2 separate regions of the Homo sapiens genome follow, and region 1 is linked to region 2. A link means that fine-mapping ties the variant in region 2 to the plasma level of a protein whose gene starts in the linked region. Region 2 holds a variant in brackets. A gene starts in the other region. All regions are shown on their reverse strands. Region 1 holds the start of CRYBB2 (crystallin beta B2). Region 2 overlaps PML (PML nuclear body scaffold).

What was found. PIP is the chance, under the fine-mapping model, that this variant and not a neighbour inherited with it causes the effect. Protein levels are from antibody-based Olink assays in UK Biobank. Linkage for the fine-mapping came from a reference panel and not from the study's own genotypes, which makes the PIPs less certain.
Region 1: it holds the start of CRYBB2, and the variant in region 2 is fine-mapped to the plasma level of the CRYBB2 protein (UK Biobank, PIP above 0.99).

What each region holds. Positions count from the first base shown.
Region 1 is chr22:25,217,119-25,222,484 of GRCh38, reverse strand. It overlaps CRYBB2 (crystallin beta B2), which reads right to left and starts at 2,846. Exons shown (of 6, transcript NM_000496.3): 1 at 2,819-2,846; 2 at 1,002-1,081. The coding sequence starts at 1,055.
Region 2 is chr15:74,041,406-74,046,771 of GRCh38, reverse strand. It overlaps PML (PML nuclear body scaffold), which reads right to left. Exons shown (of 9, transcript NM_033238.3): 8 at 3,633-3,783; 9 at 1-2,551. The coding sequence ends at 1,764. Among named protein-coding and RNA genes, the nearest start is that of GOLGA6A, 38 kb to the left of the region's middle. RefSeq lists a silencer at 218-409 and an enhancer at 4,964-5,366. The variant A/G (reference allele first, on the strand shown) is at 2,480.

The DNA of each region.
Region 1 (5,366 bases), not on the chromosome of region 2:
AATTTTCATATAGCCGCTTCCTCACTTGACCCAGGTGTCTGCTCAAAGTCAGCTCCTCAGAGAGACCCTCCTGGACCACCTGAGCTAACACAACCACTGTGACTCTCAGGAGCCCCTTCCCCTAGTTTACAATTGTTTGTAGCACTTCTCACTACTGGAAATCATATATTCATTTATTTATTGTCTGTCCTTCTTCTGGAAAGTAAGCCCTAAAAGGGACAGATTGGGGTGAGCAGGTGAGGGGCTGTATCTGCTCAGGCTTCCCTGGCCCAGGAGGCACTGAGTCAGACAAAGGGGCCATTCCTGAAGGAACCTGTGCCCGGGGCTACCAAAGCAGGGAGGCACAGGAGGGCAGTCAGGTGGCCGTGCCTAGATAGAGGTTTGAGGGCAGACTGGGTGTGACAAGCCTCTGACGTTGGGATAAGATCCTGCCGCCCTTGGGTGGACAGGTGGATGAGAAATCAAAGGCGGCATTATTTGCTGGTGTTAGGTGGATGCGCACCCCAGGCCGGGTGTTAGGCTGAGCCTGGTTTCTTTGGCTCTCACAACTTCCCTGTGCAATAAATCTGACTCCTCCTTTTATAGAGATGGAACTGAGGCTCAGAGGGATCAAATAATTGGCCCGGATCACACAGCAGGTGCAGAGCCAGGACTCACACCCACCTTCCATCTACTAATCCCATCTCTGACTGAGAATGAGGGTCTGCTCCAGTTTCAGGGAGCCCTGTAGACAATAGGGTGTGGCAAAACAGGTAAGGGAGAGAGAAACTGAAGTCTCCAAAGCCAGAGGCTGGTACTGGGAATCCCAGCATGCCAGCTATGGGCTGGGGAGGGACTTTCAGTATCAGCTCCAACTGTGTGGGTAGAGGAGACTGAGTCCCAGAGAGGGGCAGGGGTCGAGAGGGGGTACCCATGAAGAAAGATGCCAAGCCCATTTTACAGAAGGGCAACTAAGTCTGGGGGAGGAGCATTGCATGCCCCCTCCTCTGAGAGGTACCCACCTTGGGGTTGAGGGACTGTGGCTTGCCCGCCTGGGTCTGGTGATCTGAGGCCATGGTGGACTGTCCTGTGCAGGAATGACCTGGAAGACATGGGAAGCAGCAGTGAGGACCTGGAGGGGCCACTGGCTTTTTCACTCTGTGGGGCCTTGAGACCACTCCCCTCTGGCCCCAAACATTCTCTTTTTCTCCTGGTTTCAGACTGTCCCAGAGCTGTGGGGTCCGTAAGCAGCTACTTCAACTTCTGTCCTTAGCTTCATTTATTTCTATCCAGGCCAGCTGCAGGAGGAGGGAAAAACGAGGTCTACTCAAAGAAAGAGAGCAGTAATAAACTAGAGCTTAAATGAGGTCCAAAGTGGGTTCCCAACACTCAACCCCAGACAATGGATACCACACAGAATATAGAATGGTCAATCCCAGAACTTCTGCCTTTATGCAGTAATTTCTTAAATAAAATTGTGTGGAACAAACAAAACCTATGCATTGGCTGTATTTGGTGGTGTGGTGGTGCCCAGTTTAGGAACTCACAAAGTTCCCTGTTCCCCTGCTCCTTCTCCCACCCTCTCCCTGGGACTCCTCTCCCCATCCTGGTACCTAGATTTCTCTTCTCTGCCACTGGTTTTACTCCCCCATTAGTGAAATCATCTGATACAGAACCCACATTACAAGAAAGAGAAGAAATGGGTGCGACGGTAGAAATCCAGGCACTGTGGCAGGCAGCAGGGTAGACCTGCCTTAGCTAGTGAGAACATCAGAAAAGCCTGGAAAATTGTCAGCCTCTTCCCCCTTCCTGCAGAAGGGGTGGTCAAACCAGGCTGTGTTTCCCCAGGGGTAAGAGAGGAAGCCTGGCCTCCCTCTTCAGAGATAACGCCAGCTTCCAGAAGCCCCTTCCACATGAAAGGCCAATACTGGATGTTTCCCAGGAGGAAGAAATGCAGTTAAGCACCTTGGCAGCCAAATCTACTGCTCTCCCGCAAGAAACCAGCCCTCTGGGCTTGTCAGAGTGCCTGAGGTCCTGCCATATCACTTCCCAGTCCTGAGTGTTCACAGACTGAAGAAGCTCAGTTGGTCCAGTTCAGGAGCAGTCTCTGCTGCCTGCCAGAATTGAGACTCTGGGCAGGTCTCATCCTCTCCCTATGCCTCAACTTCCTGTTCTATAAAATGGGGACAGTAATGATGTCTAATAATACCTGTGAACAGGTTGTGAGGATTCAATTATGTAATGTATAAAACCGGAAGCACTTGGCCGTGGTCCCAGAACACACTCAGCATGCAGCAAATGGCAGCAATTGTGGCATTATTAGAGTCATTTCTACCATGCTTTAGTGGCATTGAAATCACCTGTTGCTGGGACCTGTCACATACCTGTGGCTGCATCCTATCCCCTAGCACTCCCAGAGGCTAGGCACAGAGTGGGTGCCCCCTAATTGCAGATGTGGAGGAAAACTGACTCACCCACCTAGAAACAATGCTGAACTGTCACTGGTTTGATTCTTGCAAAACCCTCAGTTACATTCTCCTCCTCAGCGACTGGCGAAACAAGGATGCTGATAGTCTGTTTAATATTAATAATAAAGAACATTGCCCCAATGCCCACTGTGTGCCAGGCACTGTGCTGGATGATCCCCTAACTTCTCTTGAATCCTTACAATAAAGAAGGCTTTTTAACCCCCTTCCCAGTTACCAGAAAAGAAAACTGAGGCTAACAGCATTGAAGTCTCTGCCCAAAGTCACTTGTCAGAATCTGGGTGCTCCCATGCTTGCGGACAGGGGTGAGGATGAGAGAAAGAAGGGAAGACAAGCAAGAGAGGCAATCTTACCAGTGACACCAGCCCCTGCGAGTGCCGTGAAGCTCGGCCAGCGGGAGGTGGCATTTATACCTTCCCCAGAAGTGCCGGTGCCAAGATGAGTGACCGCTGTGCTCCTGCGAAAAGCAGGGTGAGAATGCTGGATTAAGCTCTCACCAAAGCTCGGGTCAGCAAATGCCCACAGACATTGTGTCTCTGCACAATAATGTCATTAGCTTTCAGATTCGGCCGCGCCAGGGCGGTCAGGCGGCTGGGCAAGGAGATGCCCGCTTTGCATGCATCAGCCGTCCGGCTGCCAGGGCCAGGGGTACGCTGGGTTCACTGGTACGGTCAGTCAGGCCGTGAGGCATGGCAGACAGAGGAACATCTCAGTGGGCCTGGGGAAGAACAAGTAAAGAAGGGTGGTTTGGCAGAGTCTGGGCTTCATTCATCTACCCATTTATTCATTCAACAAATATTTGTTGGGCATCCACTTGGTGACAATCTCTGTTCCAGGGGAGTGTCAGGAAGAGGACCTACGCCAGCCCAGGCCATTCAGAAAAGCTCCTGGGAGGTAGCGCATCCCTCAGGGATGGAGAAGAGGAAGCCTGGGAACAGGGTGGGGGGACAGTTCCAAGCAGAAAGGGTCCATATACAAGGAACCAGCATGGTGTATTTCAAGAAGACCTGAAAACAGGTTAACAAAGCTAAAGCATGACATGTGACAAATAGGGCCTGTGCCAGGTGGCCAAGGTGGGCAGGGCCTGATGTTGCAGGGCCAGGGAGGCCAATTATGGAGAGTGCATTTTATTCTCAAGGCCCCTGGCTGTTTCTCTTTCTTTTCTTTCTTTCTTTCTTTCTCTTTCTTTCTTTCTTTCTTTCTTTCTTTCTTTCTTTCTTTCTTTCTTTCTTTCTTTCTTCTCTCTCTCTCTCTCTCTCTCTCTCTCTCTCTCTCTCTCTCTCCCCTCTCTCTCTCTCTCTCTCTCTCTCTCCCCCTCTCTCTCTCTCTTTCTTTCTTTCTCTTTCTTTCTTTTGAGATGGAATCTCACTCTGTCACCCAGGCTGGAGTGCAGTGGTGTGATCTCGGCTCACTGCAACCTCTGCCTCCCAGGTTCAAGCGATTCTCCTGCCTCAGCCTCACCAGTAGCTGGGACTACAGGTGTGCGCCACCAGGTCCAGCTAAATTCTTTTTTTTGCTGTATCTTGTTAGAGACAGGGTTTTGACATGTTGCCCAGGGTGGTCTCAAACTCCTGAGCTCAGGCAATCCATCCACCTTGGCCTCCTAAAGTGCTGGGATTCCAGGCATGAGCCACTGCACCCGGCCTGTTTCTTAACCACTGTCCTAGAGTGAGTTGCTCTTAGATCCCTACCACTGGCCCCATCGCTGCCACATGGGTGCCCAGCCTTTACTCACATTTCTTTTCTATTTTTTTTTTTTTTGAGATGGAGTCTCGCTCTGTCGCCCAGGCTGGAGTGCAGTGGCACGATCTCAGCTCACTGCAAGCTCTGCCTCCCGTGTTCACACCATTCTCCTCCTTCAGCCTCCCTAGTAGCTGGGACTACAGGCGCCCGCCAACACGCCCGGCTAATTTTTTGTATTTTTAGTAGAGACGGTGTTTCACTGTGTTAGCCAGGATGGTCTCGATCTCCTGACCTCATTATCCGCCCGTCTCGGCCTCCCAAAGTGCTGGGATTACAGGCGTGAGCCACCGCGCCCGGCCTTTACTCATGTTTCTTTAGTGCACACACCTTCCTTGCAGCCCAGGCTGTGTCTTGATCCAATCTGAGGCTTGGAGACTGGGTCAAGTATACCTGCTTTCCCCTGTCTCTCATTTTCTTAATGCACATATGCATGCACACGCATGCACACACACTACACACACATGCCCCAGCCCCCTAGCTGGGCTTTTCCTTTTGCAGCACTCATCACTACCCAACATTCTGTTACTCATTTATTTTCTGTCTTTCCAATGAGAAGATAAGCACCACAAAAGCAAAGAAGTTGTCCCCCTGGTTTACCATGGTATCTCCAGAGCCCAGTGCCTGACGCATAGTAGGTACTTGTTTTAAAATCCCAGGGCTGGCCGGGCACAGCGGCTCACGCCTGTAATCCCAGCACTTTGGGAAGCCAAGCCAGGCGGATCACCTGAGGTTGGGAGCTCGAGACCTGCCTGAGCAACATGGAGAAACCCCGTCTCTACTAAAAATACAAAATTAGCCGGGCATGGTGGCACATGCCTGTAATCCCAGCTACTCGGGAGGCTGAGGCAGGAGAATCACTTGAACCCACGAGGCAGAGGATGCAGTGAGCCAAGATCATGGCATTGCACTCCAACCTAGGCAACAAGAGCAAAACTCTGTCTCAAAGAAAATAAATAAATAAATAACATAAAATAAATCCCAGGGCTGCTGTAATAAAGTGTCACAAACTAAGTGGCTTAAAAACAACAGAAATTGGGAATGTAAAATGGTGTTGCCACTACGGAAAACAGTGTGGCTGTCTCAAAAAAAAAAAAAAAATCCAACATAGAATTACCATATGAGCCAGCCATTCCACTTCTGTGCACGTGCCCCAAAGAA
Region 2 (5,366 bases):
TTTCAAGATTCACATCTTTATTAAAGGCTGTGACAGTGGAGGCAGGGCAGAACACCCCTCAATCACATCTGAAAACAGCACACATGGTGGGGCTGGAAATCAGTGGGCCCAGTCTCCCTTCCTCCTTCCATCTGCATCAATCTGTTTCCATCGGTGCTTCAGAACCAGCGCCTGTTTTAACAGTCTGGCATCAGAATCTTATTTTAAATGCATCAAAATTCACTGTGAGAGCCAGCACTCCGGTCGTGGGAACAAGACCCTACGGAATTCCTCAGTGGGTCTTCAGGGGCCCCATGGGATGGGGCTGCAGTATGGGTACACAGACTTCACCAGTGTGAAAGCTGAGGTCATCAGCCATGGAGGCTAGAGGCCTGGGCTGCTTGGGAAGCATCCCAGGAGCAGGGAGCTAATGAGTAGGGATGGGAAGGAGGGAGGAGGAGGAAGGGGCTGTCGTTCTGCTAATCAGAGCGGACAACCCTGACCTGCCTCTGTTCTGCTGTTGACCTCTGATGTGACCACAAGGTTGGGGACTAACAGTTTGGAATGGGAGCTAGAATTCAAGGATGAGAAGTCTTCCTGTCCACTGCCTCAGAGGCCTGCTTTCCATTCCTAAAAATGCAGGATGGCACAGCCAGATGGCCGCTCTGACCGTGGAGGCCAATCAGCCCATTTTACAGATGGGGACACTAGAGCTTAGGAAGGGACCTGTTCCTAGGCCACACTCACTGCACAGTCAGAGATAGGGACGGGACTTTCTCTGCTGTTCCACACTGCTTCCCCTTGGAGGAGCAGTCTATGAGAGCAGCGGTTCTCAAACTTGAGCATGCACCAGCATCACCGGGAGAACCTGTTAAAACACAGACTGCTGGGCCCCACCCTGAAGATTCTGATTCCAGAGGCCTGTGGTAGAGCCCACAGGTCTGCATTTCTAAGAAGCTCCCAGGGGATGCTGATGCCGCAGGTCCTGGACTACATGCTGAGTAGTGCTGGGCACTCCTTGGGACGGCTGAGGGTGAGGGCAGTGCAGGAAGAGCCAAGGGCCATGCTGTGAGGGGTCTGGTGGCCTGAGGACCAAAGAGCAAAGCTGTGGCCAAGCAGAGGTGTCTGTGCAGCCAGGAGGAAGGAAGCAAGCTTTGGAAGGTCAGGCTTTGGAAGCAGGGACATGCATGGAACATCAGTTTCTGTCTTTGCTGATGAGGCCCCTCTGGGATGAAAGGAGAAGGGAACAGAGTTGGCCTCTGGGCAGGTGGAGGGTGGGGGACCCTAACCTCATGAGGGGCAGTTTGGTTTGGAAGGCACTTTGAGTTGCCATGGGCTGCCAGGGCTGTAGCCAGCATCACCTCAGACTGTTCTGTGTGGGAGCTGTCAGCAGGTGTCCAGGGGCAGGGGCTGGGGTCAGGGCAGAGCTGTAAGGACACCCAAGGTAGTGGCAGGTGGGATGGATGGGGCAAGACCAGGGCCACCTAGAGAGCCCAGAGGTCATGCCTTCCTCACTCAGGACCTCCCTGGTTCTAGCTCCTGGAAGGAGGGGCTAATAGGAGTCTGGTGCACACCTAGGGTGATGGGTGCTCAGCTTTGGAACCTTCTCTGTAGGATGTTTAGAGAAGGGAAATTTGGTCCCAGAGAAAGGGAACTGATTCTGAACCAAATGACAACTGAGGGCTGGGTACCAGGACCTGGGAATGCTGTGATGGGTGGGGCCTGGCTCAGGGACCCCATCCCTCTCTGCCCACCAGAGACTCCAAGCTGGTCACCCCCTCCTCTCAGCTCTGCTGGGAGGCCCTCTCTGCCAAGCCACGGCCAGCAAGTGGGGTGGAGACTCCTTCTGCCCGTGCCAGCGCCGGACCCTCCAACAGGCCTTCAAAGTAGGTGCCCAGAGCCTGCAGGTTGAAAGCAGGCTGGGCAGGGGGCAACGTGGTGGTCTGCAGGCTTAGATAGCGGCTGTACTTCTTCAGGCCCCCCTGCCGGTCACGGCGGTGTGCACTCAGCAGCTCCATGAAGCTCACGTTGTGTAGGGCCAGGAGGCGGGCCTCAGCCCGGGGCAGCACAGCTGCCTGCACCAGGGGCTGCAGGGAGGCAAAGCACTGCAGGCTACTGAAGGGGTAGACATGCTGGGCCAGCTGGGGGCCCGGGGAGACCTCGAGGAGGCGGCACAGGTCACGCATGGCCAGCACGGCAGCCATGGCGCTGCGCTCGCTCATGTTTCTCGCCAGGTAGGTCTGGGCCAGGTTCTTGAGTTTGAAGCTGCTGGCCCCGGGCACACGCTCCCGGATGAGAGGCAGGGCAGCCAGGAAGCCCGAGATGGCCTCCTGGAATTCCCACAGCCTGTTAATGTCCTCCAGGGCCCGGAAGAAGTTTGGGAGGCCAGGCCCCCACAGCTTGTAGCAGGCCAAGATAGGGCGGCGCATGGAGCTCAGAAAGCTGAGGAAGTGCTGCAGCCCCACCTCCAGGGACACGGCCTTGGAGTAGATGCTGAAGA[A/G]GGCTTCAGGCTGGATGACCACGCGGAACTTGCTTTCCCGGTTCACCGCAGCCAGCTGGCTAATCTTCTGGGCTGGGCAGGAGAGAAGGGCAGGGTGAGGACCCAGGGTCACAGAGAGCTCTGGGGTGGGAGCAGGGGGTCCTCTAGGGCTGCTGACTCACCATCTAGAGACCTCACCTTGGGGTCTGCTGGCAGTAGCCACACATCAGCCCCCAAATGCAGCTCTGATCCTGGTTGTGGTGGGATAGCAGTCAGAAGGGGAGGCTCGGCTGCCCTCCAAACACTTTGTTCACCAGCTGGGGATCCAGCTCTCCCCTCCTCCACTACCGGCCCCAGAGTTGGCCAAACCCCATGGATACAGGTCCCTCCTGTCTTCTATCAGCCTCAGCCACCTATACTAGAGATCCCAGGCTGCTTGAACTTAGCTCTCCATCCCATGCTCCTTCCTCCAATCCCCTCAAGGACCCCAGCCCAGTCAGAGCCCTGGGACATAGAAAGCACTCCACTCAGAGCAAGGCCAAGAGCCTCCCACTGAGGTCTGCAAATGACTTTTCTGTACCATGAAAACACTTGCTGTTTCTGTCTGGCTGGGCTAGCCCCAATGTTGAGTCCATGCCACAGGGTAGGGCCTGGGGCTCTGGCTCAAGGAGGGGCATTTGCAGAGCCAGGGCAAGCACTGGAGGAAGTAGAGGGGCTTCCAGGATAAGGGGTCTGATCCCTCTGTGACCTTGGATCTGTGGGCAGCCCTGTGCAGCCACCTGTGGGATTGGCCCTCTACTCAGAAACGTGTAGCACAGCCAGAGGCCTTACTTGGATGACAGGGCTCACGGCAATGAGCTCACGCATTGTGTTTCTGTCTAGGAGTGTGTTCCCCAGGCTCTCTGTCTGAGAGAAGAACTGGTCAGAGGTGCACTTGTGGAGGCATCTGCCTCTCTCGCACACTCAGGCACTGGATAAGGCGGACATCTTTATTCAAGCCAGCAAATGACACGCCAGGAGCCCAGGTGAGCCGGAGTGCTCTGCCCAGCCTGGCTGCAGTTGTTGGCCAGAGCTCAGAGCTCTCCTGGGCCTGGCAGATGGCTCTGCCTGCACTTCTTTTTGGGACTCAGAGACTAAATTAGAAAGGGGTGGGGGTAGCCCCAGGAGAACCCACTTTCATTGTCAATCTTGAGGTCAAAGAAAACCAGAGGTCTGTCTTCTGCTTGGGGGTCAGCAAGGTTCTCGTCCAGGACCCTGAGGGTGCTGGGGCCTTCCAGCTGGAGGTCACTGGACTCACTGCTGCTGTCATCCAGCTCTCGGGAGGACTGCAACACAGAAAAACCAAGCGTCAGGGATTCAGAGGGCCAAGGCAAGCACCTGTGCAGAACACTAGCAAGCTGGTATAGCTGGGAGCATCTGCGTGCACATGAAGGAGGGTGTACCACTGGGAAAGGGGACGTGTGCACAAGAGAAGGTATGTGTGCATGAATGGGTGTGAACTGGGTGTGTCACATGTGAGGGTTACATGTATGAACCAGGGCATACACCCTCATGAGTAGGGGAGGAAGGGTGACACACACAGGTTGTGAACGTGCATGTGTGGGAATGAATCCAAGTGCTAAATCTGTGTGTGCATGCACAGTTAAGTGTGAGCTGTGAACCTGCGTTGACACAAGTGTATGAAAGTGTGAGAGAAAATGCCAGTGGGTGTGTGCATGAGTGTGCTGTGCTGCTTATGGAGGCTCAGGGAAGGAGCCATCTGCTATGGCAGGCAGGACCTGAGATGTCTGCTCCTAATTTCATCTTTCTGAGCAGACTCAGAAGAAACACCAAAACTTGGGACGGGAGAAAGAAGCCTCATCTTGAACCCCAGATGATTCTTTGGAAGGGGTCGGGAGCCTGCCTTTTCTTGTCCCCGAAGTCAGCCGAGGTGCCAGTGTCCTACACAAAGGCGAGGGGAAGGACTGCTTGGCCTCCTGAAGGCCACATCTAGGTGGACACCCAGGTCCTTGGCAGTGAGAGAGCAGTGGAGGCTCTTGGCATCTGCCCCAGCAGCTTAGAGAAACCTGAGTTTTGGGAGTCCTTCAGGTGAGGCGTTCTCTCCTGTCCCAAGGTCCTGGTGGGAACACTGTTCGAGAAGCCATGGGGTGGGGAGCCAGAGGATGAGGGAAGGGCTCCAGCTCTGAGATTTTCCCAAGGGACTGGGACTACAGAGGGAGGTGGAGCCTCTGATGGTAATACAGAGTTAATTGCTTATCATCTGCTCAGCTGCCAAGCCCAGATGTTTAGTCTTTGATGACCAACTTGGAACCTCCCATGAATGCCACCTGTGGACGTTAGCCAGAGACCAGCAAGGAAGAGACATGGACAGGATCACAGGGCCAATTGGGAGCATGGCTGGGACAGAGTCCAGGGCAGGCCTTGGGTTTTTCCTCTTTATGGACTGCCGCTGGCTTCTCAATGAAGTTGGTGTCACCTGGTGCTAAAGCCTCAGTTAATTCTGGCCTCTGGCTAATGTCCCTGGCCTAGGAGGCAGCACATTTCCCCAGACCCTTCCAATGCCCAAGTGAAACATCTGCTTCCAACCAAGCTTCAACTGAGAGAAAAAGCGTTTCCACCCACAAGTAACCTAAGATGTGGTGGGTTTTTGTAGGAGTGGCTGGATTTCACTGGATTTGCATTTCACAGCCCTGCTCCAGGCTCATCAGCTTTCTGCCAGTTATTGTCAGAAGCAGACACTCACTATGAATCCATCTAGAGCTGGCTTTGCCTCTTCATATCCAGGGATCTAGTCAGAGAGTCTGCCCAGCGCCTCGCATCTCCAGATCCTCATTCAGCCACGCTGTCAAAAGCTGATTTCACACGTCTTGCTCCGGGTGAGCCCACACTGCTGTCTCGCCTTTCCAAC